Homo sapiens: one gene and its partners. The protein of the gene in region 1 purifies or fractionates together with the protein of each later gene. This does not show direct contact. Each region holds a gene or a part of one and is shown on either strand. Other genes may lie near its edges. The genes, in order: HIBADH, MGME1, NENF, NPEPPS, SERPINF2, ATPAF1 and PCDHGA9.

Region 1 (4,200 bases):
GGCCAGGCTGGTCTTGAACTCCTGACCTCAAGTGATCCACCTGCCTCGGCCTCCCAAACTGTTGGGATTACAGGCATAAGCCACCTCACCCGGCTGTTCTGACTATGTTTCTACGATGCCTAATGATGTTGAGCATCTTTTCACATGTTTACTGGGTCATTCATATATCTTCCTGGGAGAAATGTCTATTAAAATCCTTTGCCCATTTAATTGAGTTACTTGTCTTATGCTGGCGTTGTAAGACTTCTTCATATATTCTAGATACAAATTCCTTATCAGATATATGATTTGCAAATATTTTATCCCATTCTGTGAATTGTTTTTCACTTTATTGATGGTGTTCTCTGGAGCACAAGTTTTTAATTTTGATAAAGTCCAATTTACCTATTTATCATTTTGTTGCTCATGCTCTTGGTGTCATATCTAAGAATCCTTCGCCAAATCCAAAGTCATAAAGATTTACCTCTGTGTTTTCTCCTAACAATTTTATAGGACATCTTTGGGGGTTGGGGAGGTGGGCCACTATTCAACCCACTAAACAACCCATACAATAGATAAATATTATTAAATTGTAACTCCGTGGGTACAGAACCACACAAGAGAAGGCAAGGGAGACCAATGATCAGTGGCTTGACTGATCTAGGCACCTTATTTTCCAGCAATCTAGTTTATAAATAGGTTAACAGGTAGCTACATTTCAGAATCATCAACACAGATGTCACATACACACACTCAAAAATGTCTTTCACATTAATTTCAAAAAGAACCAAAACTCCGAAGTCAAAGACCTTTGTTTAGACATTGGCTCTTGCTATTCATTCACTACACAGTGGTAACCCCTCCTCTGAGAGGTATACATTCCAAGACTCCCAGTGGATGCCTGAAACCACAGACAGTACCAAATCCTATACAGACTATGTTATATAAACATATAGACTATGTTTTCTGGTTTGTTTTTTTTTCTTTTTAAGGCAAGGTCTCACTCCATCACCCAGGCTGGAGCACACAGCTCACTGCAGCCTCAACCTCCTAGGCTCAAGTAATCCTCCCACCTCAGCCTCCCAAGTAGCTGGGACTACAGGCACACACAACCACGCCCAGCATTTTTTTTTTTTTTTTTTTTTTTTGAGACAGAGTCTCCCTCTGTCATCCAGGCTGGACTGCAGTGGTGCAATCTCGGCTTATTGCAACCTCCGCCTCCTGGACTCAAGCGATTCTCATGTCTCAGCCTCCCAAGTAGCTGAAACCACAGACACACGCCACCGCGCCTGGCTAATTTTTGTATTTTTAGTAGAGCCGGGGTTTCGCCACATTGGCCAGGCTGGTCTTGAACTCCTGGCCTCAGGTGATCCGCCTGCCTTGGCCTCCCAAAATGCTGGGATTATAGGCACAAGACACTGCGCCCAGCCAGTTTTTCTTTATATATACACTCCTATGATAAAGTTTAATTTATAAATTAGTCACAGTAAGAAATTAACAACAACAATAAAATAGAACAATTATAACAATATGCGAGCAACACTACTCTTGCGCTTTGGACCATTATGAAATAAAATAAGGGTTACCTGAAAATAAGCACGCGATATCACAACACCCGATCACTGAGGCGGCTAGTAAGTGACTAATGGGCCAGGGAGTGTCTGCAGCATGGAGACGCTGGACAAAGGGATGATTCACATCCAGGTTGGGACAGAGCTGGACAGCACAAGATTTCATCATGCTACTCAGAACGGCATGCAATTTAAAACTTATAAATTGTTTATTTCTTGAATTTTGTACTTAACATTTTCAGACCACATTTGACCATAGGTAACTGAAATCGTAGAAAGTGAAACTGCAGATAATAAGAACCACTATATAACATTAGGGATATTATTTAGCTTCTCCAAGCATTGGCTTCTTGATAGCACTTCTGTTGCAAAGATAAAATGAGATAATACATACAAAATATTTAGCAAAAGACCTGACACATAGTAGGTGCTCACTAAATACTGTATTAGATTCTTTTCTCTCCCTTTCAAAACATAAATATCTCCTTCATGCAGGGATAAGCCTTATTCTTAAGGCAGCCTTCCTTCATACCTACCTAAAATTAGCAACACTAAAGAAATAAGAAACTTGTTGGGAAACAGAGGTAAGCCTGGTAACTTCAGAGTATGAGGTAATTCAGGCAGAGCATCAGAAAGCTCTAGAATTCTGGGAAAAAGCAGGAGAGAGTCACAAAGCAGTGATGATCATTACAGTCGTTCCACATACAAGCTGGAAGTACTACAGGCATAGAGGGAAGAGTACCTGTGTCTGTAACAACGTAAAAGGTCACAAGCTTCTGCTTTGCCAGTCTAGGGTAATAGTCCCCATTCAATTCCTACCCCACTCTTTGGTTAAATTCTGTTTTTAATTGAAGATATTTCCTCTGTTTAGAGATCAAGTACCCTTGTTACTCTTACTAACAGATAAACCACTGTAAAATGGCAATACCAAATAGATGTGTTATCCCAAAAAGTAATAACTGTCTCCTCAAAATAACTACTAATTGGTTCATCTCAGACTGAATATCAACTTGAAATGCTCACCATCTCTGAAGATGGTAAAAGGCCGCCTTTCCCAGATTCTCTACTATACGACTGATCAAATCTCTCCAACAAGGCTACTAAGTCCCTACATTAATTAAGCCTGTAAGCCTGCTATACTGGGAGTGTAATATCCGTATTCAGAGACTGAACAGGCAGAAGCAGCCACAACACTACCCTGAAAAGTTCCAAAGTCATACTTCCATCCTCACACTATACTGCTGCAATTTCCATATGGCACAAAAACCATGGAAAGGAAAAAGATTCAGATATATAGTTCTGAAAATGGCTTCTAAGTTACCTAAAGCTGTTCTGTAACTAGGTATAGCATTTTTCAGTATTTACTTTCAAGTCTATTATCTAGAAGCTGGCTGTGTAATTTTTTTCTCACCTTTTTCTCAGGAATTTTTTAGTATTCTCTGTTCTGGGATCACACACTATCCTCAGTTACCACTCTACAACTTGACCAAGAAGAATTTCCCTCATATCTAGAAAAAACAAACTATATTCGGATACTGATACATGGTCTCCTGTAATTTGAGTTATTGATAAAGTTTAACAAATCCAAACAACTCAAGACTTAACCAGCAGATGTTATCATCCAACATGATAAACTCTGGTACCAAAATTCTTTAAACATGAATGATAGCCTAAAAACACTAGAGATCCACTATAACTCAACTCTTCATTATAGGACATAGTGTTTTTAGGCTGTCTCCTGGTTTATGGCCAATAACTAATAATTATTCACAAAGTGCTGCCATATGATGTTTTCAAAGTATGTTCACATACATTCTCTCATTTGAGCTTCACAACCTAATGGCATAGGTTGTCATCGTTCACATTTTAAGAATGAGGAAATCAGCAGAAGTGATGTAACTTGCCCCCAGTAAGAAAGCATGTATCTGAGCTTCAACTCAAACTAAGCTTTATATCTCTAAGCCTACTCTTGTTTTAAAGACATATGTGCTTTTAATAACACAGGAGGTTATTTCCACCAAACTAACTACTTTAACAGCACAATCAGTAAAGTTACTATCTCAGAAAACTGATACAGAGCTAAAACAAGGCCCTCTGACCAAATGTGCAAAATGTTCCAAGTCACCTGCCAAAGAATAGATACCCCTGAATGTCTAACGAGAACTCTCCTTTACTGCAAATCTGGATGTTGGATGAATGATTACATATATATAAAATTAACACTGAATTAGGTTTACAACTCCATTGGGTATACTTCTAAGAAGCTGTCACTTATTTGAATGTATATTCATTTTTCATTCTCAAAATCTAAAACAAATCTAAAGAAAAGGTCTTACCTGTTCACCTGCATCTTGAAACTCTTTGCAGGCATCAGGGAACACATCATAAATAATAAGTGGATAGCCATGTTTCATGAGATTTTTTGCCATTGGATTCCCCATGTTGCCCAGTCCAATGAATCCAACTGGAGTCTTTGAAGCCACTGACCTAGAACACACTGATTTCAATACATTATTTTCAATAGGGGCAAATAACATTTTTTATTGTAAACATTCATTTAATATTAGCAAGTCAATTGTTAGATTTTTTTTTTTTAATAAAAGAAACTTTCAGGAACCAGGTGCAGTGGTGCACACCTATAATCCCAGCT
Region 2 (3,503 bases), on another chromosome or scaffold:
AAATTTTGCAGCTGGACATAGTGACTCACGCCTGTAATCCCAGCACTTCGGGAGGCTGAGGCAGGCGGATCACCTGAGGTCAGGAGTTTGAGACTACCCTGGTCAACATGACGAAGCCCTGTCTCTACTAAAAATACAAAAATTAGCAGGGCATGGTGGTGCACGCCTGTAATCCCAGCTACTTGGGAAGCTGAGGCAGGAGAATTGCTTGAGCCCGGAAGGCGGAGGCTGCAGTGAGCCCACCGCACTCCAGCCTGGCTGACAGAGCCAGATGGTCTCAAAAAAAAAAAAAAAGAAAAATAAAAAGAAATTTTGTTAGGTCTAGCCTCCTAAATTCTAGGTTGAGGCTTATTAGAGCAGAGTGGCAAACTCTGCTAGCACAACTTTTAATTGCCTCACTTCATTTTTGACTGGAATTTACAGGCTACAGAAATATGTATCTGCAGCTTGAGAAAAACCCACATGAATGCAGAAGTGTATAGAGATAATACAAAGGTCCCCCTTGATCCTCCCATCTCCTACCTGAATATTGCTTTCCTTGCTAGGTGACCGTGGCTGAGGGCTTAGTGAGGAGGCTTTTTTTTTTTTTTTTTTTTAAACGGAGTCTCGCTCTGTCGCCCAGGCTGGAGTGCAGTGGCGTGATCTCGGCTCACTGCAAGCTCCGCCTTCCGGGTATACGCCATTCTCCTGCCTCAGCCTCCGGAGCACCTGGGACTACAGGCGCCCGCCACGACGCCCAGCTAATTTTTTGTATTTTTAGTAGAGACGGGGTTTCACCGTGTTACCCAGGATGGTCTCGATCTCCTGACCTTGTGATCCGCCCGCCTCGGCCTCCCAAAGTGCTGGGATTTCAGGCGTGAGCCACTGCGCCCAGCCGAGGACGCTTTCTTTTATGCACTTACACAGAACTCTCACCAAAGCTATTGGGCTTGTAAAATTCTGAATTATAAAAAAAGTGCAAACAATTTCCAGGTTTATAAAATTATCCTATAAACACACAAAGTAAACAAAACCAAAGCTTCATTACTCATATCTTGTATTTTATTTCTTATGAAAATGGCTACCCAAAGAAGTCATTGTAGCAGGCTACTATTTTAAGGCAGCAACTGTATAACTTAAATGCTAAGACTCACTCCATAAGACAGAAAACCCTTCCCCAGGGCTGTAATGGGCATTTAAGTTTCCCAAACCCAGGGACAACTAATTTTTATTACCTATTGAATAGAAACAAATGGATTTTAATAGTTCCCCTCCCCTATAGCTGAAAAACTCCACAAACAATAATTGACTCTATCTACATGATCTGTTGACTCACGCCAGAAATAGTTACTAAAACACTTAGAATTGTGATGTTCAAACTGGCCTCTGGCTACTTCTGGGGGGTTATTTGGTGTTACGCAATGACATATTGCCAGCGACATGGTGAATATACTGTCTTTATAGTCAGCAATGTTTAGTTGAGGCTAATCACGTATTTATTTTTTCAAAAGGTTAAATGTAAGCTTTTCCCAGCTGAAATATATAGAAAACCCCAATGTATGAAACAAGTTTTAGGCATTGGTGTTGGCAGCGGTAGTGGGCTGATGTGTCCTCCCTGCACACAGCTGGGGGCATGTAGCCCCTTCCCCTCTGGGTGAACCCTGGGGAAATCTTGGCACCCTCAGCCTCACTGCCTTCCAATCTCAGCTCAAAGACTGGGCATCCTGCCTGGGACCACGCCCCCCCCCCCCCAATGTCCCTCAAGGGAGTACAAGAGTCACCAGCATGACTGCCCATCCTGCGTGTCCTCCTTTCAGGTAAATAAGAGGTAGCATAGCTGGGATTTCGCGTGCCGAAGTCTAGGTCTTTATATCTAGACTTTGGGGCTTTTCAGTCTTTTTGGTAACAACACATTTCAACAAATTAATACTTCTACTTGTGTTCGTGTAGCACTCAGATCCAGTGGCACCTCATTTTTACACTGGAGTAAACAGCAATATATGTTCCCAAACTGTGAGAAGGTGCTGAATGTTCCCAAATAGCAACTTGCTCCCTATTCTGAATATTCTGGTTTCTGAATATTCTGGTTCTTTTTCTTTTCCGTATATTCTTCTAGTCGAAGAAGCCACTTGGTCCAGTACTGGGAACAGAGCTCTGCATCCATGAAATGTGGGTGGGCAGGTGATCCATCTTTGTAGGCCACCACAATTAAGCCACATTGAACCTAGGAAGAAACACAGGGCAATTCTCGTTTCACTACAGTAGGTCCAGAGTTTAGGTTCGTTTCCTTCTTACTCCAGGGCAAACTCAGTATAAAATAATCTACAGGATATCTCCTAACTCAGTTTCTAAGGTAGGTTGATCAAAGACTGCACCAGGACACAAGAACACAAAGATGACAGATAAAACATTGAAGACTGGGCTGTGATCCTTACAGAGCCATTGAAAAAAAAAAAAGGCCCAAGAAGAGGGTGGAAAAGTGCTTTTTTTTTCTTTTTTGAGACAGGATCCCACTCCCATCGTCCAGGCTGGAGTGCAGTGGCACAATCTCGGCTCGTTGCACCCTCGAAGCTGAGGCGGGCACCACTTCCGGCTGATTTTTCTATTTTTAGTAATGATGGAGTTTTGTCACGTTGCCCAGGCTGGTCTTGAACTCCTGGGCTCAAGCAATCTGCCCACCTCGGCCTCCTTCAAAGTGCTGGGATTACAGGCATGAGCCACCACCCCTGGCCAAAAAGTGCTATTTATTTATTTATTTATTTATTTATTTATTTGGAGAGAGACAGTCTTGCTCTGTTGCCCAGGCTGGAGTGCAGTGGAACAACCTTGGCTCACCGCAACCTCCGCCTCCTGGGTTCAAGCGATTCTCCTGCCTCAGCCTCCCAAGTAGGTGGGACTAGAGGCACACACCACCACGCCCAGCTAATTTTTGTATTTTTAGTAGAGACAGGGTTTCGCCATGTCAGCCAAGCTGGTCTTGAACTCCTGACATCAGGTGATCTGCCCAACTCGGCCTCCCAAAGTGCTGGAATTATAGGCTTGGGCCACCACACCTGGCCTATTTATTTATTTTTGAGACAGGGTTTTGCTCTGTCGGCCAGGCTAGAGTGCAGTGGTACAATCTCGGCTCACTGGAACCTCCACTTCCTGGGCTCAAGCAATCCTCCCACCTCAGCCTCCCAAGTAGCTGGCACAAGTGTGCGCCACCATGTCCAGCTAATTTTTGTATTTTTTTTGTAGATACGGGGTTTCACTATGTTGCCCAGGCTGGACTCAAACTCCTGAGCACAAGCAATCTGCCTGCCTCGGCCTCCCAAAGTGCGTGAGCCACTGTGCCCAGCCAAAAAGTGCTTTTTTAAGTGGGAAAGGAACAAGGAAGACGTTAAGCAATGGGATAAAAATAGAGATTAAAAAAGGAAAAACCTCAAGGAGTTCTATTTTTTAACTTTTTTTTTTTTTACAATTTTTCTCCTCCTACCCCCCCACTGAGAAGTTTTTTTTTTTTTTTTTGAGACAGATTCGAG
Region 3 (4,779 bases), on another chromosome or scaffold:
TTAGTACTACTTCAAAGCAAGGATACTACTCAGAAACACAGTAGTACTATTATTAGAAATGGAGTAGTTTCTAATGAACTATTTTAACTACTATGCTCTGCGACTTGCCCTGATTCTTTGCCGTGGACGTCTAAGAACCTGCTCTTGGGTCTGGAATGAGACCCTTTTTCTGTTAATTCCTCTATTCCAGTCTTGAAAGTAAAAGCCAGTCTTGAAAATAACCTGTGAAGCCCCCAAGATCCACCCCCACTCCCTTACCCGCTTCCTTCCTGACTTCACCTACCCCTCTTACCTTCCCTTGATCCTCCAGCAAGCCGGGCATCCTCATTCCTCCGCATTTATGCACCTGATCCTTTGACCAAAGTGCTCTTCCCTCTAGACCGCCTCCTTCGCCTCCTGTAGATTTTTATGCAAATACCCTGTTCTCAGTGAGGCCTTCCCTAACCTGCCTATTTAAAATGACCATCCCCATAACCGGGCACCGTTCCTCACACCTGTAATCCCAGCACTTTGGGTGGATGAGGTGGATGGTTCACTTGAGGCCAGGAGTTCGAGACCAGCCTGGCCAGCATATAGTGAAACCTCATCTCGACTAAAAATTAAAAAAAAAAAAAATTAGCCAGGCGTGGTGGTGGGTGCCTGTAATCCCAACTACTCTGGTGGCTGAGGCAGGAGAATCACTTGAACCCGGAAGGTGGAGGTTGCAGTGGGCCGAGATGGCGCCACTGCACTCCAGCGTAGGCGACAGACTCCGTCTCAAAAATAAATAAATACATAACAATAAAATAAAATAAAATGTCCATCCCAGTGCTCCCTATCTCTTTGCCCTACTTTTTCTCCCTAGTATTTACCACCATCTAACATACTACTTAGCATCTTATTGTCTATCTGCCCACACAATGTAAGCTTCACGTGGGCGTGGATCTGTCTTGTTCAGTGGTGAGTCCCCAGTGACCTGGTACATGGAGGTACTCAAAAATATTTGTTGCATAAAGTAATGAGCAAAGTTTGGCACAAATGTTAGCTATTATTATTTCAGGGCGTATCGGTAACAGCACCCTACCCTTTGCAAAAATCTCCTTGGGAACCAGAAACTTAAACACAACCAGGAAGAAAAAAAATCAGCCAAAAATAAAAGCGAATTAAGACAGTTGGGGTCTTATTTTAGAAATATACCTTTCTAGGTTCTGGTATGTTGGGCTCTGTCATCTTTCTACCTGATCAAGGAACCACTGTGACATTTTTTGGTAACTTCCAGTCTGTAGTTTGGATTTAGGAGTTCAGGATTCCAATCCTAATTTCCAGGTTCCAGCTGCGTGGCCCGAGTAGCCCGGCCAGCCCCACCCCGGGGCGCAGGAGGCGCGCGAAGGGCGGGAGTTCTCGGGTCCCCGCCCTCGGGGAGGCTCTGGGCGCGGGGCGGGACTCCGGGACGCTGGGCGGGCGTGCTAGGGCCCCGCCGCCCTGGCCCGGCCTTGCCTTGCGCTGCGCGCTCACCATGGTGGGCCCCGCGCCGCGGCGGCGGCTGCGGCCGCTGGCAGCGCTGGCCCTGGTCCTGGCGCTGGCCCCGGGGCTGCCCACAGCCCGGGCCGGGCAGACACCGCGCCCTGCCGAGCGGGGGCCCCCAGTGCGGCTTTTCACCGAGGAGGAGCTGGCCCGCTATGGCGGGGAGGAGGTAGGCGGGGGTGTCGCGGGCCGAGGGACCCGGGGTGGCGTCCGATCTGCGGCGAGCCGAGCGGGGACCCAGGAGGCGCCGGCGGCCCAGGAAGCTCTGGGGGACGCGCGGCCCGCGGCGGGCGCCCTGGGCCGGCGGGGGGCCTCCTCTCTCTAGGCCCCGAAGGATGGCCGAGGGGTGAGGACGAGTCCTCAACAGTCGGAGCGCTCCGCTTTGCCCGCACACCCCACCCTGAACTTCTCCCTCGGTCCCCGGGAGATTTCCCCTCTAGCCGCCTTTTCGTTGATGATCTGCGTACAGACCTCAGAACTTTTTGGTTTTCATGTTAGCATCAGCCGAGGCGTTTACTGTGCCCACGCATAGTGGGGAGTGGCGGGGGACGGAGGGAGGGAAGCAGAGCCTGCTCCCTGGGTTAGGTGGGAATTGAGACAGGTCCTGGGATAAGCCAGTCTTTGCCTGCACTTCCTTTTCCTGCCCCTGTATCCCAGGCCTCTGCATCGGACTCCTCAAACCCACTTTTAGGTCATGTACCCCTGGGGCTCAGCCAAAGCTGGAAGTGAGCGCAGAGGGTGGACTGGAGGTTAGAGACCCCCACAACCCCCCCGCCACACGTCAATAGAGACCCCCCCGCCCACACACACCCACACACGTCAATAGTCTAGAGGCGTCCAGAAAACTCACAACCACCTGCCCACCTGGGTTGGTTGGGACTGGAGCCGCACGACAAGGACCAACAGGGGGCTGATATTAGATGTGGAGCGGGGGAACGGCATTGGGGGGAGGTCATAGTACCATAGTATTTCAGAGCTGGCAGGAACCCATCTCCTGCTTTTACACATAAGGAAACTGAGGCCTGCCACCTGTTAGTGGTAGAGCAGGAAGAGGCCTGATGTTTTTCAAAACCCTCTGGCCTGGTCTCGCTAATTCCTGAGTTAATTGGCCTTATATGGACTAGGATTGCATGGGGGTATCAGAAACCTGGCCCTTAGTCAGTGATGCCAGTTTGGGCATCATTTGTGAAGGGGCCATTTAGAACCATGAGTCAGTGAGGACACCGAGGGAGGGAGACATGGCTGGGATGTGAGGATGTTAAGGGATGCCTTTTTGCCGGTAGCAGAGGGAACCAGATGGTTCAGAGTCCAGGCATCCGTGCAGAAAAGAATTAACATGGCAGGCCTGCTCTCCTTAGAAAAGCCTACTTGCAAGGGTGGGACTTGTCTAGTGTCTGGATTTCTCACCCTTCCCTACCCAATAACGGTGGACTCACTTGCCTAGGCCGTATATACAGATGGTGTGGTTAGTATTGAACACTGTATATGCTAGGCAGAGGGTGCCCCATGTGACCAGCCCCCAGTGAAAACCTTGGGTGCTGAGTCTAATGGGCATCTCTAGCAGAGGAATGTTCTGCCAGAAGAATGGCACATACTGTCAAGTTTTGTTGCTGGGGGAAGAGTGTGCTCTTCCTCATGGGAGGGAGAGAGCATAGGAAACCTGCACATAGATTCCCCTAGATTCTCCCTCTGTGTTTTTCCTTCCCAGCTGTGAGTAGAACTATATGCTGGGTTCTTGGAATCTTCCTTCTAGGGACTCTCCAACTGACCCGATGATCTTTGGGACCACTGGCACAAGAATCTAAGGAAAGAGAGAGTTCACCACTGAGGTTACAGCAAGAGTGCCAGAACTGCAAGATGAGGACTGAGAAAAGACCCTTGGTTTTTTGATGTTGATGTTATAGATTGAAATTTAACTGAGAGAGAGAGGACCTTGAGATGGAAACAGGGGTAGGAAACAATTGTTTTGGGAGTGGAGCCTGAGGATCTCTGTAGGTGGAAGGAAGGAGCCAGAGAGAGGAGGGGAGCGAGGGACGAGAGAGGCAGTTGAGTGCAGTGGGTTCAAGCTGTGCTGCGCTGTTGTTTGACCTAGATTGTTCTGGTCTATGCCTGTTATCCAGGGATAATTATTAATAACACCCTTTCACTCAGAAGTGTGACAATTTGTATAATACATTGGATCATACCTGGTTTTGAGTCCCTGTTCTGCTGTGTGATTTGGGGCAAATTACTAAACCTCTCTGAGTCTCCACTTTGTTCGTAAGATACTTGGATTAGTCCAGGTTTCACCAGGGAACAGAACCATTTGGATATCTATATCTATACAGTTGATCCTTGAGCAACACAGGAGTTCGGGGTACTGACCCCCATGCAGTCAAAAGTCTGCATATAACTTTTTTTTCTTTTAGAGGCAGGGTCTTGCTGTGTCGCCCAGAATGGAGTGAGTGGCTTTTCACAGGCAGTCATGGTGCACTAGAGCCTGGCAATCCTGGGCCCAAGCGATCCTCCTGCCGCAGCCTCCCAAGCCGCTAGTATTACAGGTGTGCACCCAGCCATGTATAACTTTTGACTACCCCCAAAACTACAGTTTTTTTCCTTTTTTTTTTTTTTTTTTGAGACAGGGTCTCACTCTATTGCTAAGCCTGGAGTGCAGTGGCAGGAACACAGCTCACTACAGCCTCCTCCTGGGCTCAAGCAGTCCTCCTACCTCAGCCTTCCCAGTTACTGGCATTACAGGTGTGCACCACCACACCTGGCTATTTTTTAAATTTTCTGTAGAGATGGGGTCTTCCTGTGTTGCCCAGGCTGGTGTCAAACTCCTGGGCTCAAGCAACTCTTCCACCTCAGTTTCCCAAAGTGCTGGGAATACACGTGTGAGCCTCCATGCCTGGCTCAAAACTTAATTACTAATAGCCTACTGTTGACCACAAGACCCAAGAACATAGTCGATTACCACGTATTTTGTAAATGTATTATATACTGAATTCTTACAGTAATGTAAGCTAGACAAAAGAAAGTGTTACTAAGAAAATCATAAAGAAGAGAAAATATATTTACTATTAAGTGAAAGTGGATCATTATAAAGGTCTGCATCCTGAGAAGGAAGAGGAGTGGTTGGTGTTGCTATCTCAGGGGTGGCAGAGGTGGAAGAAAACCCACATATAAGTGGACCCATGCAGTTCAAACCTGTGTTGTTCAAGGGTCAACTATATATAGATAGATAAATGGTTTATCATAAGGATTGGTTTACACGATAGCGGGGGCTGGCTGGGCAAA
Region 4 (3,535 bases), on another chromosome or scaffold:
ATCTAGTATAACCTCTCCCTGAACGTAATTCAAACTACTTAACTATTATTACAGACAAAAATCACATGTATGCTGAAAGTAAAATAACCTGTTTCCAGAATTTCTGATTGCAAAATTCTGAGTTCTTCAATTAAACCTGCATTTTTCTCAGTCTTTTTGGTGCCCCTGCTTCACTGGTGCCTTAAGAACATTTGAGAGCCTAAGGGCAGCCCTGAGCATGGTGCCTGAACTAGGGTGCCTCAAAACTAGGGACTGAGGAAGTCTCAAGTTCATTCCTGAATGCTGACTATAAGAGTCTCTGAGAGAGTTTTGAGAATGTAGAACTGATTTAGAATGAATCTCAGGATTTTTCTGTTAAGATCTATAAATTAGGAATTAAGGAACTGGATTTTTTTTGAATTTGAAAAATCCTATGATAGTATAACTTTGCATAAGCCTACTGAATGATAGGAAAGTTTTTAGTTTCTTATCAAAGAAAGAGAATAAAGTGAATCAGGACATCAGTTTCACATTGACATTTTTATTAACGCCAACTGTTTTTTAATTATTTTTTTAAAACAATAGCACAAAAATGTTTCAAGGAAGCAGTCTCACAATCTGATGACCTTCTGAAATACCGTTAAGCCACACCAAATATGAATTTCTGTTAATAACACAAAATATTTTTTTAAGAAAAAAAGAAAAAAAAGGTAGGGAAAGAAGAAGGGAATGAGATTTAGATTTAAAACTCATTGGATTAAATAGGTGAGGCTTATTAGGATATACTGTTGAAGCAAACAGTGGCACACACAGGCTTACAGTCTTTGTTTTTTAAACCAGTTACCACTAATGTATTAAGCCCTGCAGCAGTTACCACTGACTTCTCGCACGCATAAAATGAACCGGGAGAAGCCAGTGTTGATACTGTTGTGAAGAGGTTCAAGAGCTGGCTTTTCAGACAACTAAGACCATTTTTAGCAGAATAACTCCTTCAGAAAGGCCTGGCTGAAGATCTTTTTATTTCTATTGTCTCACCTATATAAATTTCAGGGTTCTTATAAGTCATCTTTAAAAAGAAAAAAATAATGTATATCAGTTTCTCTTATTTAATGTGGCTATGAAAGATGTTTCCTTATTATTTCTTCATCTCTAAGAAGGACACCAGGGAATGGGGGTTGGGGGTGGAACTAAAGGGAGGAAAAAAACCAGAACAGGGTAGGTTTTTGTTTTTTGCTTTTTGTTTTTTTTTGGCCAAGGGGTCGGTCACACAGAAGGGAAGGCAAGGAGGAAAACTAAACTACAATCCTTGGTTCAGATTGAGTTATGCAGGAATATATCTTCCTGATCAGTCCCCGTGCCAAAAAAAAAAAAAGCCACTTGGAATTATGCACTGACTCCAACTATGTGATACCAGCTATCAGCCTTTTGTGTTTAACCATTCCCAGAAATGGACACCACCCTTGGCTTTATAGGCTCCTTGCAGAACCCACTTCACAAAAATGCTCTTCACCAAGAAGCCTCTAGTTTCCTTTTGGTAGGTTATAAAAACAGAACATCTGTCATTAACAGTAGAGTGTTAAATACTTTTAACCACTGACAAGGCTTCAGAAAGTTTCACAGTTTCGTTATGCTCTATTTTATTACTATCATATTTACATTTTTATTTTTTATTTATTTTTTGCTGAATTGCTGATTTTCCTTTTTCAATAGAATTTAATTCTGGAGTGTGAGCAGGAACCAGTTAACTACATTCATTGTCCAACCCCCACTGGTTTGAAAGAAGACTCCAAATTCTTGGCATATGAATCAGCTGTTCGGTAGCTCCACCTTATCCCTGCAGCGAAGCAGCAGAACCGCCAATGGCGGCACCTCAGGATTCACACTGTGGGTGGTGAGGCCTTCCGCTGAAGGAGGTACTGGTGGATGCTCTCAGCATCTCGCTTTAGCCAGGCAGCATTCAGCAGAATATTTTCACAACACTGCTGGATGGTACGCTCAGCTGAAGGAGCTGGGTGACTCTCGAAGAAAGCCTGGTATAAAACAACCCAGAATGCAGGATCATTACTAGCAATAAGAAGTTAATATTACAGGTTATGAAAAAATACCCACTGGTCTATATGAAGGATGCATAATCTTCAGGCATGAGAATTTACCACTGCCACCCTCAGGCTAAAAGAAAACAAGCAACTCCTTGGACCTGCATATAGGAATTCTCCCCTTAATTATATGCTTAACAACCTAATCAAAAGTTAATAAAGAGACAGAACCTACTGCCTTTCTTTTAGGCTAATTGTGTAGTGGTAAATATAGTCTTTGGAATGAAGACTTGGAACCTGAATCCAGGCTTAGTCATGTACTAGCTTGTGACTGTGAGAAAATTAACTGCTCTAAGTCTCAGTTTTCTCAACTATGAGAAAATATCTACTCCAGAAGATTAAAGAGACAATCCATATAAACATTTGACAAAATACCTAGCACAGAGTACTTAAGGATTCAACACATTTTGGCTGCTTCAAATAAAGATTAATTTGTAAGGGATGATAATACAAAGAAGTTTAAATTGCTGCTATGCCCTAATAATTTAACACCCCATGGTCTTTTTTTTTTTTTTTTTTTTGAGACAGGGTCTCACTCTGTTGCCCAGGCTAGAGTGCAATGAAACGATCATGGCTCATCACAGCCTCAACCTTCTGGGCTCAAGTAAACCTCCCACCTTAACTTCCTGGGTAGCTGGGACCACAAGCGTGCACTCCCAGGCCAAATTGTTTTTTCCTTTTTGTAGAGATGGGGTCCTACCATGTTGCCCAGACTGGTCTTGAACTCTTGAACTCAAGCAATCCTCCCACCTCAGCCTCCCAAAATGCTGGAATTACAGGAATCCAACATTTTTAATACAGTAAACCAAACAATTTCTAAGTTTACAATTTATCACAATGCTTAATGATTAAAAGTTGAATAAACTTTTCTAATGCAGTACACCTGGTTTCACAGAAAACAAAGCAACTCTTAAACACCAGCTGGCAAAATGATAGGGCTTTTCCTTTGAATTAGTCACCACAGGTGTGAAAGACAGAATGACTAATCCATCTGATTAAACATAGACCTTTTAGAAATCAATAACCTTATTTACACAGATGACAATTGCTACTGTTCCAAGGCTCCTAATCATGGTTCAGTTCTCAGGGCCTCAAGTCTTTTTCCATTCCATCGCAGAGTAGTACCAACATTTATACACCAGAAACCTGGGGATTATCCTGGCTTGTTTTTCTTCCTCTCCCAGATATGCTCACAACAGAGAAGCCAATCAATAAATATTGTTGAACTAAATGGTTAACAAATTCAAGCCCCTGAATCTCCATTATTCCATCTCCTCCACTACTGCCACTACCCTACTGTAAGCTATTCTATCATTCTTGCTAGGAGAGTTAGCTTCCCAACATCTTCTCTTCCCCATTCCAAACTATTATCCACATTGCAGCCAGACTGAAATTTTTATAACACAAATCAGATCAAGGCACTGCCTTGTTTATAAACCATTCGAAGGCTTTCCATTTTT
Region 5 (4,806 bases), on another chromosome or scaffold:
AGAACCATTGGAGTACTGAGTTCCTACTGGCCTCCCAGCTCTCTTGGTCTGGACAAGTGGTGCCAGGGTACCTAGTGCCAGGTGAGACAGCGCCAGGGCCACACTCAGGGGTGACAGGATGAGGTTGGGGCAGGTGGACGTTTGAGCCACCAGGGAGAACAGGTCGGCAGTGAAGGCCATCATGGCCCGGGCCAGCCTGTGGGTCTGCTCTGGGGTGGGGTCTCTGCTGCAGACTCCTGGGGGACTCTTCAGGGCAGTCTGGCCACCAGGCTCCTGCAGGGACAGATCAGGGGTCAGGGAGGTCAAGGGGTCAGCTCCAGGTTCTGTGTTGAAGGCCTTGTCACAGCCCCTGTGCCTGAGGACAGCAGGGCCTTGTCCCAGCCCCAGGGAAGAGGGAGCGTCAGACGGAGGGCACTGGCATTCTGGGGCCTGGCGCCCACCTTCGGTCCTCCCCACCCTCTCTCCCTTCTGGCCTCTGGACTCCAGAGCCTCAGCCTCAGCACGCGCCCCCACCCCCCGACCCCTGCCGATGGGCCCTCCTCCCTCTAGCCCCGCCCACTCTTCCCCAGCCCCACCTGGTTGTACCTGGTTGCCCAACTTGAGGAGGGTAAGTGGGGACACCTGCTCCTGGTTCGGCCCGCTAGTTAGCTGCGGAAAGGAGCAAGCAGATGGAGACCGACCCTTCCCACAGGCCCCCCACCCTGCCCAAGCCACCAGTGAGACCCCCGGGACCTTCCCCCCATCACAGGCTCCTCACTCCCCAGTACCTGCCGGCCCAAGGGCTCCATGGCGCTCACAGGGGAGAACTGTGGAGAAAGGGATGAGGATAGGAGGTCCCCTCGGAGCCAAGCCCTCCCTCCATGCCAACGCCCCTCTTCTTCCCCCTCCACCCCACCCCACCTTGACTTCAGCCCAGCCTCACCACGGAGCAGGGGCCTTGCAGGCAGGACCAGCTGAGCACCAGGAGCCCCCAGAGCAGCGCCATGTTCCTGTGGCAGGGACAGAAAGCTCTGTTCCCATCTCACATCCCCACGCCCGCCAGGGAATCCTACCCACGCGATCACAGATAACGCCAAGTCCTGGGTCATGATTGCCAAGGGGAAGAAGCAGGCTCCAGAATCAGAACAGACCCCAAACACACGAGCAGCGGCTCCCACTCCTGCAGCTGGGACATCCGCCCTGGCTTCTCCCCCTTTTTAGTTTCTGGTGTTTCATATTTCATGCATTTCATGCACTGAGGGTGTTTTGGTGAATAGGAGGGAGATACCAAATCAAAAACGTTCTCATTCTACAAGGCCCTGCGCTGTGAATCAGATCTGTGTCTGAATCCAGGCTACCTCTTGCCAAAGGACCTCGGCATTTCCCGTAACTCCACCAGGCTTGGCCTTACCTTGTAAAACGGTGGCACAAGTCCCTCACTCTTCTCACATGCATGGTGAGGACCAAAATAAGACCGTCTTTTTGGGATTTTTTGTTGTTTATTTTTTGAGACGGAGTTTCGCTCTCGTTGACCAGGCTGGAGTGCAGTGGCAGGATCTCGGCTCACCGCAACCTCCACCTCCCAGGTTCAAGCGATTCTCCTGCTTCAGCCTCCCGAATAGCTGGGATTACAGGCATGCACCACCACGCCTGGCTAATTCTGTATTTCTTAGTAGAAACGGGGTTTCTCTGTGTTAGTCAGGCTGGTCTTAAACTCCCGACCTCAGGTGATCCTCCTGCCTCGGCCTCCCAAAGTACTGGGATTACAGGCATGAGCCACTGCACCCGGCAAAAGACCATCTTTGTGGCCAGGCACGGTGGCTCAAGCCTGTAATCCCAGCACTTTGGGAGGCCAGGGGCAGGTGGATCACCTGAGGTCGGGAGTTCAAGACCAGCCTGGCCAACATGGTAAAACCCCATCTCTACTGAAAATACAAAATTAGCCAGGCGTGGTGGTGGGCCCCTGTAATCCCAGCTACTCGGGAGGCTGAGGCAGAGAACTGCTTGAACCCGGGAGGCGGAGGTTGCAGTGAGCCGAGATCACGCCACTGCACTCCAGCCTGGGCGACAGAGCAAGACTCTGTCTCAAAAAAATAAATAAGACCATCTTTGTAAACCCTGAGTACAATGCTTGGCACTCCCCCGATGGCTGGGGTCAGCTTGGCTCAAGGCCACCTCTTCTGGGAAGCCTGCCCTGAAGCCTCCACCGCAGAGCTCCAACACAGAGCTCCTACCCAGCCTGCTGCATCCATTTAGCCTGTCTTTTTTTTTTTTTTTTTTTTTTTTGAGATGGAGTTTCATTCTTATCATGCAGGCTGGAGTGCAATGGCACGATCTCGGCTCACTGCAACCTCCACCTCCTGGGTTAAAGCGATTCTCCTGCCTCAGCCTCCCGAGTAGCTGGGATTACAGGCATGTGCCACCATGCCTGGCTAATTTTGTATTTTTAGTAGAGACAGGGTTTCTCCATGTTGGTCAGGCTGGTCTCGAACTCCTGACCTCAGGTGATCCACCTGCCTCAGCCTCCCAAAGTGCTGGGATGACAGGCATGAGCCACCACGCCTGGCCCCAACCCGTCTTTCTCAGGCTGGTCAGGTCTTGCCCACAAGGCTGGACATACCTGTGAGGCCCTGAGGTCTCACCATGGGTGGCAAGGCAGCCAGAGAGCTGCCTTTTGACCCAGCAGCAGAGCCCAGTGAATGACTCTGGCCAGAGCCACCTCTGCACTTAGGAGCATCACAGGCCTCTGCTCCAGGCTGGCTCTGGGAAGGGCAGGTGTTGGTCTCAGGAGGATAAGTCAGAGCAGGTCTCAGCTACCTCCAGCCCACCCCCATCTTGGGGCCAACCCTTCTGGAGGATCCTTTGGTCCCCCCGGCCCCACCCCCATCCCACACAAGAGCCCTTGGCCAGGGCCCCGACTCCGACCTGGGCATTAGAATCTTCTTGCCAAGAACAGGCTCCAGTTTTTCAAGTCCCAGAAGAGGCTGGGGAGTGACAGGCCTCCTGAATAAATCCCAGACCCCTCAGCCAGGGAGGCAGCTCCCTCCTCCTCTCCTACCCAAGGAGCAGGCCGAGCAGCCCCTCCCCTCATACCTCTGCGGGCTCCTTGCTGCCACACACAACGTTCCTCTGGCCCCACTTGGGTGCTCCTCACTCTCTGCCCAGGCTCCAGCTGGCCCAGCCCACCCCTCCCCTCCCACCAGGACCTTTACTCTCAGCCAACCCCTGTTCAGATTGCTTTCTCTTCTGGTAAATATTGACTTGCACATCCAGTTAAACATTGATCTTGAAGCCAGAAGCCCCTTTCCCACCAGGGCATCTAACCCTGAGGCAGCCACGCAGAACCCCCTATATTTGGGTCCCCCCCCCCGAGCCTGGAAAGAGAAAGTTCAGGAGGAGAGAGTTGAAGAGACTGGATCTGGCTAGCCAAGAGGGCGGATCCAGAAAGCACAGGAACCTAGCACTGTGTTAAGCCTTCCAGAGACCCCACGAGGTGTGGATTATCCCTGGTTCAGCCAGGCTCAGAGAGGCCATGTGACCTGCCCAAGGACACAGAGCTGGGCTGAGGCACATCCAGATTCTCACTCCCAATGTCCTTTCTTCTCCCAGAGAGCTGCCTCCCGCTCCTGAGGGGAGGAAAGGGGAAGCCACAAGAGCCTATGCAGAGAGCCCAGGATAGGAAGCCCACCCCCAACCTTCCAAGCCCAGGATCAGGTTGGCTGCCTTCAGACTGGGATGGAAGGCAGGGGGTGAGGGAGGAGAAATGAGAGGGACTCAACTTCTCCCACCGTCCTGCCACTCCAGAGCAATGTCTCTTTCCCCTACCCAAGAGCGAGGGTTCTGGAAACTGACCTGGGGCTGTATGAACCAGAAGCCTGGCAGCCCGTGCAAAGATCAGGCTGCTTCCCACCCTCACTGTCCGGCTCCTCACTCCCTGCATCAGGCTCCTTCCCACCCTCACTGTCCTGCTCCTCACTCCCTGTATCAGGCCCCTTCCCACCCTCACTGTCCTGCTCCTCACTCCCTGCATCAGGCCGCTTCCCGCCCTCACACCTGCTCCTCACTCCCTGCATCAGGCTCCTTCCCACCCTCACTGTCCGGCTCCTCACTCCCTGCATCAGGCTCCTTCCCACCCTCACTGTCCGGCTCCTCACTCCCTGCATCAGGCTCCTTCCCACCCTCACTGTCCTGCGCCTCACTCCCTGCATCGGGCCACTTCCCACCCTCACTGTCCTGCTCCTCACTCCCTGCATCAGGCCGCCTCCCACCCTCACTGTCCGGCTCCTCACTCCCTGCATCAGGCCGCCTCCCACCCTCACTGTCCTGCTCCTCACTCCCTGCATCAGGCTCCTTCCCACCCTCACTGTCCTGCGCCTCACTCCCTGCATCAGGCCACTTCCCACCCTCACTGTCCTGCTCCTCACTCCCTGCATCAGGCTCCTTCCCATCCTCACTGTCCAGCTCCTCACTCCCTGCATCAGGCTCCTTCCCACCCTCACTGTCCGGCTCCTCACTCCCTGCATCAGGCTCCTTCCCACCTTCACTGTCCTGCTCCTCACTCCCTGCATCAGGCTCCTTCCCACCCTCACTGTCCTGCGCCTCACTCCCTGCATCAGGCTCCTTCCCACCCTCACTGTCTTGCGCCTCACTCCCTGCATCAGGCCCCTTCCCACCTTCACTGTCCTGCGCCTCACTCCCTGCATCAGGCTCCTTCCCACCCTCACTGTCCGGCTCCTCACTCCCTGCATCAGGCCCCTTCCCACCCTCACTGTCCTGCGCCTCACTCCCTGCATCAGGCCCCTTCCCACCCTCACTGTCCTGCGCCTC
Region 6 (4,825 bases), on another chromosome or scaffold:
CTTACCTTCTGTTCCACACATTTGATAAAATCACCTTGCCTGGAATGCCCCACTGGCTGCTTCCGAAATTCACTGCGTTTCTCCAGGCGGGACTCAAAAGCAGCTGGGTCTGACCTGATCAGAGGTAAACCAAAGGGTAAACCAACTGGGCCTTTTTGAATTCTAAAATAACAAAGCATCACTTTCCACCTCTACAGAGAAAGGACACTGCCATTCAGAGAGGTTGAAAAATTTGCCTTCAGTTAGTAAGAACTGGGCACAGGCCTAGAAATAAAGAAACTGGAAAAAGAAATCCTGTTATTCAACTGTTGTTAATCCTCAAGGGGCCTGTGTAACATTTTTCTTTTGCAGGCTGTTCCCTAGGTTTACACAGGGCTTAGTCTCTCAGGTACTTACATTCAGGGTACTTAGAATTTTGAGGTCATCTTGCTGGATCACCTCTTCAGACAAGAATCCTATAGCCTCCTTACTAGGTGTCAAGCTTTTACTTGAATACATCCAGTTCTTGAAAATATGTCCCCCCAACCAGGTTAAACATCTGCTTTATTCAGATCCTGGTGATTCAGAGGCTTTAGGTAGCCTATTTTGCAGAAGATTTAGCATCTGAGTATCTCCCTAACCTACCCTCCAAAGAAGCTGCTCTTGGAGATGAAACAACAGAACACATTGTTTATGTCAAAATGGGGTTGGTCTTCAGGTTTGAAGTCCAGGCTGGGGTGCTGTCCCTATTAAGAATTCTTCAGACTGTGTAGCTAACCATGGGATATTTGGTTTTGTACACTTTGGTGAAGATATCATCCAGGGATTCCAGCTCTTTGGCCATGAGACCCAGAGTTTCATGGGTGAGGTCTGGAGGACCCAGGGACATCTTGGCTATCCCTCTGGTGGACTTTCCTGGTCAATGCATTATAGGGGGCCCCTTCTTCCATAAAATTCCTTTCTGGAGGTGACATAAAACACCACTCCCTTCACTGTCATGTAGATGGGATGTTTTTCTTCTCTCTGTAGTGGGCCGGCTCCTCCTCAATAAAGAGCCTCACCAGGGGTTTCTGCTTAGTCGGGCATGGCACCTGCCTGGCCAGAGCTGCAAGCAGCCCTGGGGGCTGTACCAGGACCAGGGTCAACCCTGCTAGTGGCTACAGCTGCAACTGGGCCTGCCATAGTGAAGGGGTAGAGAGGGCAAGGGACAGCCTGGGCAGTGAAGCTGTTGCTGGGATCTGAGGATATAGAAATAAATAAGTCAGACTCCCTACCTCAAGGAGCTCACTATCCAGTGGGAGAGACAGGCATAAAAGTAAACAAATGAAAGTACAACAGGTATTATGATGAAAATTTGCTCAAACATCCCCAAATGGTTAAGGTGGTTTCATGCCTCTGTACCTTTGTTTATGTTGCTGCTCCCCTTACCTGGAACATCCCCTCCTCTCCATTCTTTTTCAAAGGAAGTTTGCTAACAGATAAAACTAGAGAGAGACTGGCAGGGACTAGGGTATGAGGAACTTGTGTGAAACATTAAGGAGTTTGGATGTTATTTAGAGGTCAGTGGGGGGATAACAGTATGTGTAAATGTTGATGGGAATGATCCAGTGGGGAAGGACGGTAAAACCAGTTATTTATTTGTTCATGAGTGGGTAAGAATAAATGGATGCTGATAAAGTATTCAAAGTACAAGTAGACAACTCTTCAGAGATGCTTGTGTGTAAAACAGATCAAATACAGATCAACGAGAGAAGCCTGGAGGGGAATGTACATCAAAGAAAGGCTTTTAAGATGACAAATACTTGAGACTATCTCAATGCTGCTGGAAGGAGAGCAAAAATACTCATTCATTTACTGCATAACTGTTTCAAATGGCAAGAAAGATCACTACAGTAGCAGTGAGAGGAACTGGGGTAAAGTAGTCCAGGAATGGAAGTAGGGAACTCTAGTTAGAGGATAATGGCAACAGCCCAGGTGACGATGATGGAGTAGATTAAGGCAGTGGAAGTAGAGATGAGACAGAACTCAAATTTACAGTACTAAGTCTTTGGTTTCCTTTCATAAGACAACTACCTTCTTACCCTGCTAAATTCTCTCCCAAGCCCCTTTAATTTTCACCTCTGATCTCCTTTAGCTCTTCCCACTTGAACTCTTCAGATGCTCCTATAGCCCCTCATATGCACCTTAAGCCCCTCTAAGCTCCAGATCCTTCCCTCTGGAAGCTAAGAGGTGGTGTTAGGGACCCTGGACTCAGAGTCAGACAAATCCCAAACAGCTGTGTGACCTTTGGCAAGTCTCTTACTCTCGCTGATCCTCAGTCTCCTTAAGAGGGTTCAATGGGTGATCCGACTGTGACACTATTAGTCTTTGATGCCCTCCTCCCATCCCCAGTCGCCTTTCCTTGCAGTCAAGGCCCTAAGCTACCACCAGCCTGGGAACTCCAGCTCTGAGCCAGGCCTCAGCTATCTTAATATGTGACCTTGAGCAAGTCAAGTCCCTTCTCTAGAAGGCGTTTTCCCATTTCTATAATGAGGACAGGTGTCTCTGAGCTGCCTGCCTCAGGGCTGTCATAAGAGTCCACCTTAGCGTTTGGAGAACCAAAGCAGACAAACGTGGAACGAGCCAGGGCTTTGCAGAGACTCCCAGCTCTGACACCAATTAGCTGTGTGATCTTGGGCAAGTGACCTAGCCTCGCGGAGCCTGGCTACATCATCTGAAGAGCTGGGACAGTACTAGTGCCCACCTCACAGGGCTGTCCTAAGGCCCAGCAGCCCGGGCCGCCCCTCCTCCCGCCTCCTGCCCGCCTCCAGCCAACCCAGGCCCGCACCTGCGCAGCAGCTGGATCTTGTCGCGGTAGCGGTCGTAGAAAGGGTTGGCCTGGAGCTCGGCCTCGGCCCCGACCCCGCTGCTGTCGGCGCCCCCCTCGGGCCGGCCCGAGCCGGGGCGCACTGGGAAGACGCGCAGCTGCGCGGGTGACACGAGCCCCAGGCCCAGGGCGCGGCTGCGCACCGCGCACAGGCCCCGGTAGAGACCGGCCACCTGCAGGACCGCCGGTCCCGCGCCACCCGCAGCCGCCACCACCACAGCAGCCATGGCCGCCCCCGCCTCCTCCTCCTCCTCAGGCGCGTCGGCCTCGGCCCGCGGCCCGCGCGCCCGCTCCATCCCGCTCCGAGTGCGCCGCGCCCGCGCTCCGGCACCGAGGTTCCGCGCGCCCAAGGTTCCGGGCGCGGGATAGCGGCGAGGCGGGGCGGGGAGGAGGGGGCGCGCCGCTCTGGCCCCGGCACTGCGCGCTCTCGCCGCCCTGTGTATGCCACGGCCCGCCTCCTCCAGGGAGGCTGCCCAAATTCAACGCCCTTCCTCCCTCTGGGACCAGCAGCCTCTGCGCGCCAAGTCCGTTCTCTAAAGCCAGCGGATCTCCATGTCCTCGCGGTGCTTGCCCCTGGCACTCGCTGTAGTGCCAGGCACTCGATGTAGTAGTCCGTCCTTCAGCATCGAAGGTCTTTTCATCAACTATAATCACAGCAGCAAGCTTCTCTTTACTGAGGTTGCTATGTGCAGGACACTGAGCGGCTTCATACTCTGTGTGGCAGTATTATCCTCATCTAACAAATAAGGAAACTGAGGCCGAGAGTAATTATGTGACTTGTTCAAGTTCTACCCGACAGCTGAGCTCTTTTCAAGATGGCAGCTGCCTCCCAAGCCTCCTTTTCCTCTGCTTCCTGACATCCTCCTTGAACTCCAGCCACAGTGACCTATTCTCTCCCAAAGAAACACCAGGATTACTCCTTGAAGAGTCCTTATTCAGGCCCTTTTTGACCCCTGGAATCCTCTCTCCTTCCATTCTCTCAACCCAAATGCCACAATCTTCCTTACCGTCTGAACCAGGTGTGAGCTCCTAGGGTCAGGGACAGTGACATTAACATCTCTGTGTCCCACCTGCTCACAGAACAGGGCCAGTCCTGGAGTGGGCTCTCTGGGACAGTACTCATCATCAGGTCCTTCTTGTCTGGGTTTTGTCTGATTGAAGCCCCTCCTGGGACAGGGGCAGAGCCTTCAACTCTGCTCAATCCAACCTATGCTCATGGAGATCAGCCCTGAGCCCTGCCCTGTGCGAGGAACAGTGTAATGGAAGATGAATAAGTCCTTCAAGTATGCCAGCCCATACCTGGCTCACACTCCTAACACTTGCTGTTTTCTCTGTGGATCTGCATGTGGCTGCCTCCTCATCATCTAAGGGCTCAGTTCACATGTAAGCACCTCCAAGGGACCTAAATGACAACCCCTCCATCTCTTTATAGTCTTTATCCCATCACTCTATTGCATTCTCTTTATAGCAGTTATCATTATCTGAAGTTCTTAGATCCTTGTTTATATTAATTCATTGAGCTTACATTCTAGTGGAGTGAAACAGACAGTAAATATATAATGTTAGGTGATGCTACATGGTATGCAGAAAAACAGCAGGCCAAGAGAGATAGAGATAAGGGGACACTTGAGCAGAGACCTGAAGGTAATGTGGGAATGCTGGGGGAAGAGCCTTCCAGGTAGGGGAAACAGCAAGTGCAAAGGCCCTGATGAGGAGGTTATTGAGTCTGAATGAGTGAGGGCACAGCAGCAGAAATGAGACCAAGAAGGTATAGGGAGGGCTAGTTAGATTGCTTAGGCCTTGGTTAAGGACTTTGATTTTAAATCGAATGAGATCGGAAGTTACTATATGTTTTAAGCAGTGGAGTAACATGATCTACTTTTTAAAAGGATCATGCTGGCTGCTGGTGGGATTTAGGATATGTGGAGGCAAGGATGGAAACTCTCCCAAGGGTGACTAATTTATTCCAGTTTGCCTAGG
Region 7 (4,200 bases), on another chromosome or scaffold:
CCTAAGAAGTTACTGCACCCAAGTGATACATGCAATGGAAAGTAAACTATTCTGTTGGATTATTATATTTTACATAGATTCTTTGGTTTCTCCACTCCTATCTTTAAATAATTTACTATATGTAGGTTTCTTAGGGGAGGTGTGATAAAGTGGAGTGAAAATATTGTAAATATTTCAAGATAATGTTTGGTTAAATATATATTTGCAACACGTTTTCCCAACAGAAATGTACACACTTTAATAAAAGGTAAATAATACTTATTTTAGGTCATATTAGTGTCTAGGTAAATTCAGAAAAGTCTTATAATTTAAAATTGTGATTTGAATAGGCCAATTTTATTTAGTATACATTCATACAAAGATTATATTAAATAAACTCATGAGATAATTCACTCTGAAGCTTTATAATTGTAACTACTTAATTCATTAAACTTATTTAGCTTAGGATTGTGTAAGAGGTTTTTAAAGTACTCTTCTAGAATAGTTTTACTGAGCCTTAATTAACCTTTTTGTGTAAAACATACTTTATCTTACAGGGATACAAGTTAAATGGACCTATTTAAATGATTAAGCAGGTAATCACAAACTAAAATGAACATATATTACAGTTGCAAATTAAACTGTTTGCATTGTAATGAGAAAAGAAATACGTAGAATTTGAAGTACTAAAAGTTTTAGAAAACAAAGTTAGATGTAGTGATATAGGTTTTTAACAAGTAAGTGTTTATGTCAAATGACCTGTTTTCATCAGAGCATTAATACCAGTATAAATAATCTCTTCTCTTAGGCAGTTTGTATCAGAGGCCAAAGTCCAGTGGTTCACATATCTTCAACTGTGTGTGCCCATCAACCCAGTAGCAATTGTTCCCTCAAATGCAAAGGGTATAGAAGTTCACTTCTTTCACACAGAGAACAGGATGTTCAGAAGTGTTTATGTCACTATGCCTTCCAAGTATAGAACTCTTCAAAGATTTTATCTTTTTTCTTCAAAAATCTTCTATCAGAGAATCAGAGACAGAGACTGAGTGCAAAGGCAATAGTATTTCATTTATTTCTTAGAAATGTCTTTTTTTTTTGAGACAGGGTCTCACTCTGTCACCTAGACAGCTCACTGCAGCCTAGACTTCCTGGGCTCAAGCGATTCTCCCACCACAGCCACCAGAGTAGCTGAGACCACAGGCATGTGCCACCACACCCTGCTAATTTTTAAATGTTCTGTAGCGATGGAGTCTCCCTGTGTTGCCCAGGCTGGTCTCAAATTCCTGCGCTCAAGAGATTCTCCACCTCCACCTCCCAAAGTGCTGGGATTACAGCACACTTGGCCCTGCCTGCATATTTATTTATTTATTTTAGAGACAGGGTCGCACTCTGTCGCCCAGGCTGGAGTGCAGTGGCAAGATCAGGGCTCACTGCAACCTTGACCTCCCAGGACCAAGCAATCCACCCAGCTCAGCCTCCCAAGTAGCTGGGACCACAGGGGAATGCTACCACACTCTGCTAATGTTTTTTTTTGTTGTTGTTGTTTTAGTAGAGATGGGGGGTCTCCCTATATTGCCCAGGCTGGTCTCAATTCTTGGGCTCAAGTGATACTTTCCGATTCAGCCTATCAAAGTGCTGTGATTATAGGTGTGAGCCACTGGGCCTGTCTTCTGAATATTTTTAGGCTTTAAAAATATATAAATAAGATATCGTAAATTCACTAAGTCTTCGCAAATTTGAATAGATAGGTTACTTGTTTGTTTTCTTAGATGCCAAGACCACTGCTTCTGTTCGATAGTCAGAACTTGACAAAATATTGTGGCTCACGCCTGTAATCCCAGCACTTTGAGAGGCCAAGGTGGGAGGATCACGAGGACAGGAGTTTCTGAACAGCCTGGTCGACATAGTGAAACCCCATGTCTACTAAAAATACAAAAAATTTAGCTGTGGTGAGGGGCACCAGTAATCCCAGCTACTTGGGAGGCTGAGGCAGGAGAATCGCTTGAACCCAGAAGGCGGAGGTTGCAGTGAGCAGAGATCACGCCACTGCACTCCAGCCTAGGCAACAGTGCGAGACTCCATCTCAAAAAAAAAAAAAAAAAAAAAAGACAAAGACAAAATATCTTCAGTCTGGTGACATTATTTTACAAAAAGATAGAGCAACTTATGAACCAAATACATAGTGAAAACTATAATTGAAAAAACATTGAGAAAATATTGTAAAAAGCTATGGATTTTAAACATATGATTCTAGATATGAAAATAAAGTAGTATGCCTAAAATATGAGAAACTAGTAGACTATTAGATAAATCACACACAAAAAAGAGAAACTCACCGAAGTCAGAGTCTCAGGATGTGAAGTCAAATCCTCCCCACCATGAGGTGGAATTAAGGCTCCAGGAGAAACACTGCAAACCATGTCTTCATTGGAATGTAGGGGCACACTGCATTTTAGGAAATTAAACTCTTTTGTACCCGTATGTGCAATGCACAGATTATAAGAATAAGGCAAAGTCCCCTCACTGTAGTTGGGGGGAACTACAGGTCCAGACTTGACACAGAGACCAGGATGGAAGCAGTCCCAAGTAGCAGGGCTGAGAGAGCGTCGCAGGCGCAAGGCAATGGCCAGAATCACGGCGAGGAGGAAGAGCACTGAGATTAAGGCCAAGGCCACCACCAGGTAAAACTGCAGTTCAGCCTGGGGGTCAGAGAGTACAGGGCGGTCGCTGAGGTCTGGCAGTATCTCTTGCAAGTTGTCTGCGAAGACCAGATGAAGCGTGGCGGTGGCAGAGAGTGGCGGCTGTCCACCGTCACGCACAGCGACCAGCAGGCGCTGGCGGGCTGCGTCCCTGTCGCCTAAGGCTCGAGCCGTGCGCACCTCCCCAGTGCGCAGCCCCAGGCTGAAGAGTCCGGGCTCACTGGCCTGCAGCACGTGGTAGGACAGCCAGGCGTTGTGTCCCGAGTCGGCGTCCACCGCTACCACCTTAGTCACTAGGTAGCCGGGCTCTGCAGAGCGAGGTACCATATCGAAGAACGCGGAGCCGTCAGGACCCAGAGCTGGGTACAGCACCCGCGGTGCGTTGTCATTGCGGTCTCCCACCAACACGCGCAGGCTCACGTTGGCGCTGAGCGTGGGCGAGCCGTGGTCGCGGGCCTGCAGCGTGAGCGCGAAGGCGCGCAGCTGCTCGTGATCAAAGGCGCGCTGCGCGAACACCACCCCGCTCTGCGCGCTCACTGACACGTATGACGACACCGCCAGGGGCTCTAGGTCACTCGCCACTATAGAGTAGGAGATGTGGCCATTGAGCCCCAAATCCGGGTCAGAGGCGCTCACTTGCGCAATGGAGGCTCCTGGCGGGTTGTTCTCGGCCACGTGGACCACGTAGGACGTCTGGTCGAAAACTGGGGCGTTGTCGTTGATGTCAGCGACATACAAGGTGATGCTTCTACTGGAAGAAAGAGGCGGCTTGCCCCTGTCAGTGGCTACGATGGTGACATTGTATTCTGGTGTCTGCTCTCGGTCCAGGGCTCCATCTGTCACCAGTTTGTAGTAGTTATTGGAAGAAGAATAAATCTTGAATGGAATGTCTGTTTCTATATTACACCTGACTTCTCCATTTCCTCCGAAATCCAGATCCCGTGTTTTGAAGAGGGCAACAACCATTCCTGGAGGTGAATTCTCCAAAATCTGATCAGAGAGAGAAGTGATGATTATTTCTGGGCTGTTGTCGTTTTCATCAAGGATTTCTATGATTACTTTACACTGGGTAGAGAGACCACCTCCGTCCTTCGCTTCCACTTCCATGGTGTACCTTTCTACATCTTCAAAATCAAATGACTGGTTATTCTTAATCATACCTGTTTTCTCATCCAATGAGAACATATGTTTTGTGCTCTGGGCAGTGCTTCGGAAGTAGTAGTTTATCTCAGCATTGACCCCCTCATCCTGGTCAGTGGCTGTCACTTGCAACACAGGGGACCCAGGGGGCAGATTTTCACTAAGACTAATTCTATATTCGTCTCTGCTGAAAACCGGGGGGTTATCATTGGTATCCTTGACAGAAATTTCTATGTGAGCGGTGGCACTTCTTGGTGGGTCCCCTCCGTCCAAGGCAGTCAATATCAAGCTATGAGATCTCTGTTCTTCCCGGTCTAGGAGTTTCTCCAGAGATAACTCTGGGTATTTGCCACCATCGGAATTAACTCTAACCATTAATGAA

Evidence for each region.
Region 2: the proteins of HIBADH (region 1) and MGME1 purify together in Homo sapiens (affinity purification with mass spectrometry; one large-scale study listed by BioGRID and IntAct). This does not show direct contact.
Region 3: the proteins of HIBADH (region 1) and NENF fractionate together in Homo sapiens (co-fractionation; one large-scale study listed by BioGRID). This does not show direct contact.
Region 4: the proteins of HIBADH (region 1) and NPEPPS fractionate together in Homo sapiens (co-fractionation; one large-scale study listed by BioGRID). This does not show direct contact.
Region 5: the proteins of HIBADH (region 1) and SERPINF2 purify together in Homo sapiens (affinity purification with mass spectrometry; one large-scale study listed by BioGRID and IntAct). This does not show direct contact.
Region 6: the proteins of HIBADH (region 1) and ATPAF1 fractionate together in Homo sapiens (co-fractionation; one large-scale study listed by BioGRID). This does not show direct contact.
Region 7: the proteins of HIBADH (region 1) and PCDHGA9 purify together in Homo sapiens (co-immunoprecipitation; one large-scale study listed by IntAct). This does not show direct contact.

The regions. Positions count from the first base shown.
Region 1 is NC_000007.14:27,645,587-27,649,786, forward strand, and holds part of HIBADH (3-hydroxyisobutyrate dehydrogenase, mitochondrial isoform 1 precursor), read right to left. Parts: intron 4,048-4,200; coding exon 3,887-4,047; intron 3,039-3,886; exon of another isoform or gene 2,962-3,038; intron 2,345-2,961; exon of another isoform or gene 2,260-2,344; intron 1,624-2,259; exon of another isoform or gene 1,566-1,623; intron 1-1,565.
Region 2 is NC_000020.11:17,988,639-17,992,141, reverse strand, and holds the end of MGME1 (mitochondrial genome maintenance exonuclease 1 isoform 2 precursor), read right to left. Parts: intron 2,204-3,503; coding exon 2,033-2,203; coding exon of another isoform or gene 1,956-2,032; 3' UTR 1,020-1,955; downstream 1-1,019. UniProt on the Homo sapiens protein: Metal-dependent single-stranded DNA (ssDNA) exonuclease involved in mitochondrial genome maintenance. Has preference for 5'-3' exonuclease activity but is also capable of endonuclease activity on linear substrates.
Region 3 is NC_000001.11:212,431,449-212,436,227, forward strand, and holds the start of NENF (neudesin precursor), read left to right. Parts: upstream 1-1,471; 5' UTR 1,472-1,495; coding exon 1,496-1,672; intron 1,673-4,779. UniProt on the Homo sapiens protein: Acts as a neurotrophic factor in postnatal mature neurons enhancing neuronal survival. Promotes cell proliferation and neurogenesis in undifferentiated neural progenitor cells at the embryonic stage and inhibits differentiation of astrocytes.
Region 4 is NC_000017.11:47,620,242-47,623,776, reverse strand, and holds the end of NPEPPS (puromycin-sensitive aminopeptidase), read right to left. Parts: intron 2,251-3,535; exon of another isoform or gene 2,010-2,250; coding exon 1,857-2,009; 3' UTR 501-1,856; downstream 1-500. UniProt on the Homo sapiens protein: Aminopeptidase with broad substrate specificity for several peptides. Involved in proteolytic events essential for cell growth and viability. May act as regulator of neuropeptide activity.
Region 5 is NC_000017.11:1,741,175-1,745,980, reverse strand, and holds the start of SERPINF2 (alpha-2-antiplasmin isoform a precursor), read right to left. Parts: upstream 3,111-4,806; 5' UTR 3,073-3,110; intron 2,983-3,072; exon of another isoform or gene 2,913-2,982; coding exon of another isoform or gene 2,905-2,912; intron 1,648-2,904; exon of another isoform or gene 1,435-1,647; coding exon of another isoform or gene 1,391-1,434; intron 990-1,390; coding exon of another isoform or gene 986-989; coding exon 923-985; intron 807-922; coding exon 768-806; intron 649-767; coding exon 586-648; coding exon of another isoform or gene 576-585; intron 274-575; coding exon 72-273; intron 1-71.
Region 6 is NC_000001.11:46,665,251-46,670,075, forward strand, and holds the start of ATPAF1 (ATP synthase mitochondrial F1 complex assembly factor 1), read right to left. Parts: upstream 3,073-4,825; coding exon 2,807-3,072; intron 629-2,806; exon of another isoform or gene 399-628; coding exon of another isoform or gene 397-398; intron 115-396; coding exon 6-114; intron 1-5. Other genes in the region: TEX38 (testis-expressed protein 38), read left to right, coding at 4,189-4,228. UniProt on the Homo sapiens protein: Has a complex stabilizing activity in the assembly of the mitochondrial F1-F0 complex.
Region 7 is NC_000005.10:141,408,736-141,412,935, reverse strand, and holds part of PCDHGA9 (protocadherin gamma-A9 isoform 1 precursor), read right to left. Parts: coding exon of another isoform or gene 2,271-4,200; intron 998-2,270; coding exon of another isoform or gene 974-997; exon of another isoform or gene 315-973; intron 1-314. Other genes in the region: PCDHGB6 (protocadherin gamma-B6 isoform 1 precursor), read right to left, coding at 2,316-4,200. UniProt on the Homo sapiens protein: Potential calcium-dependent cell-adhesion protein. May be involved in the establishment and maintenance of specific neuronal connections in the brain.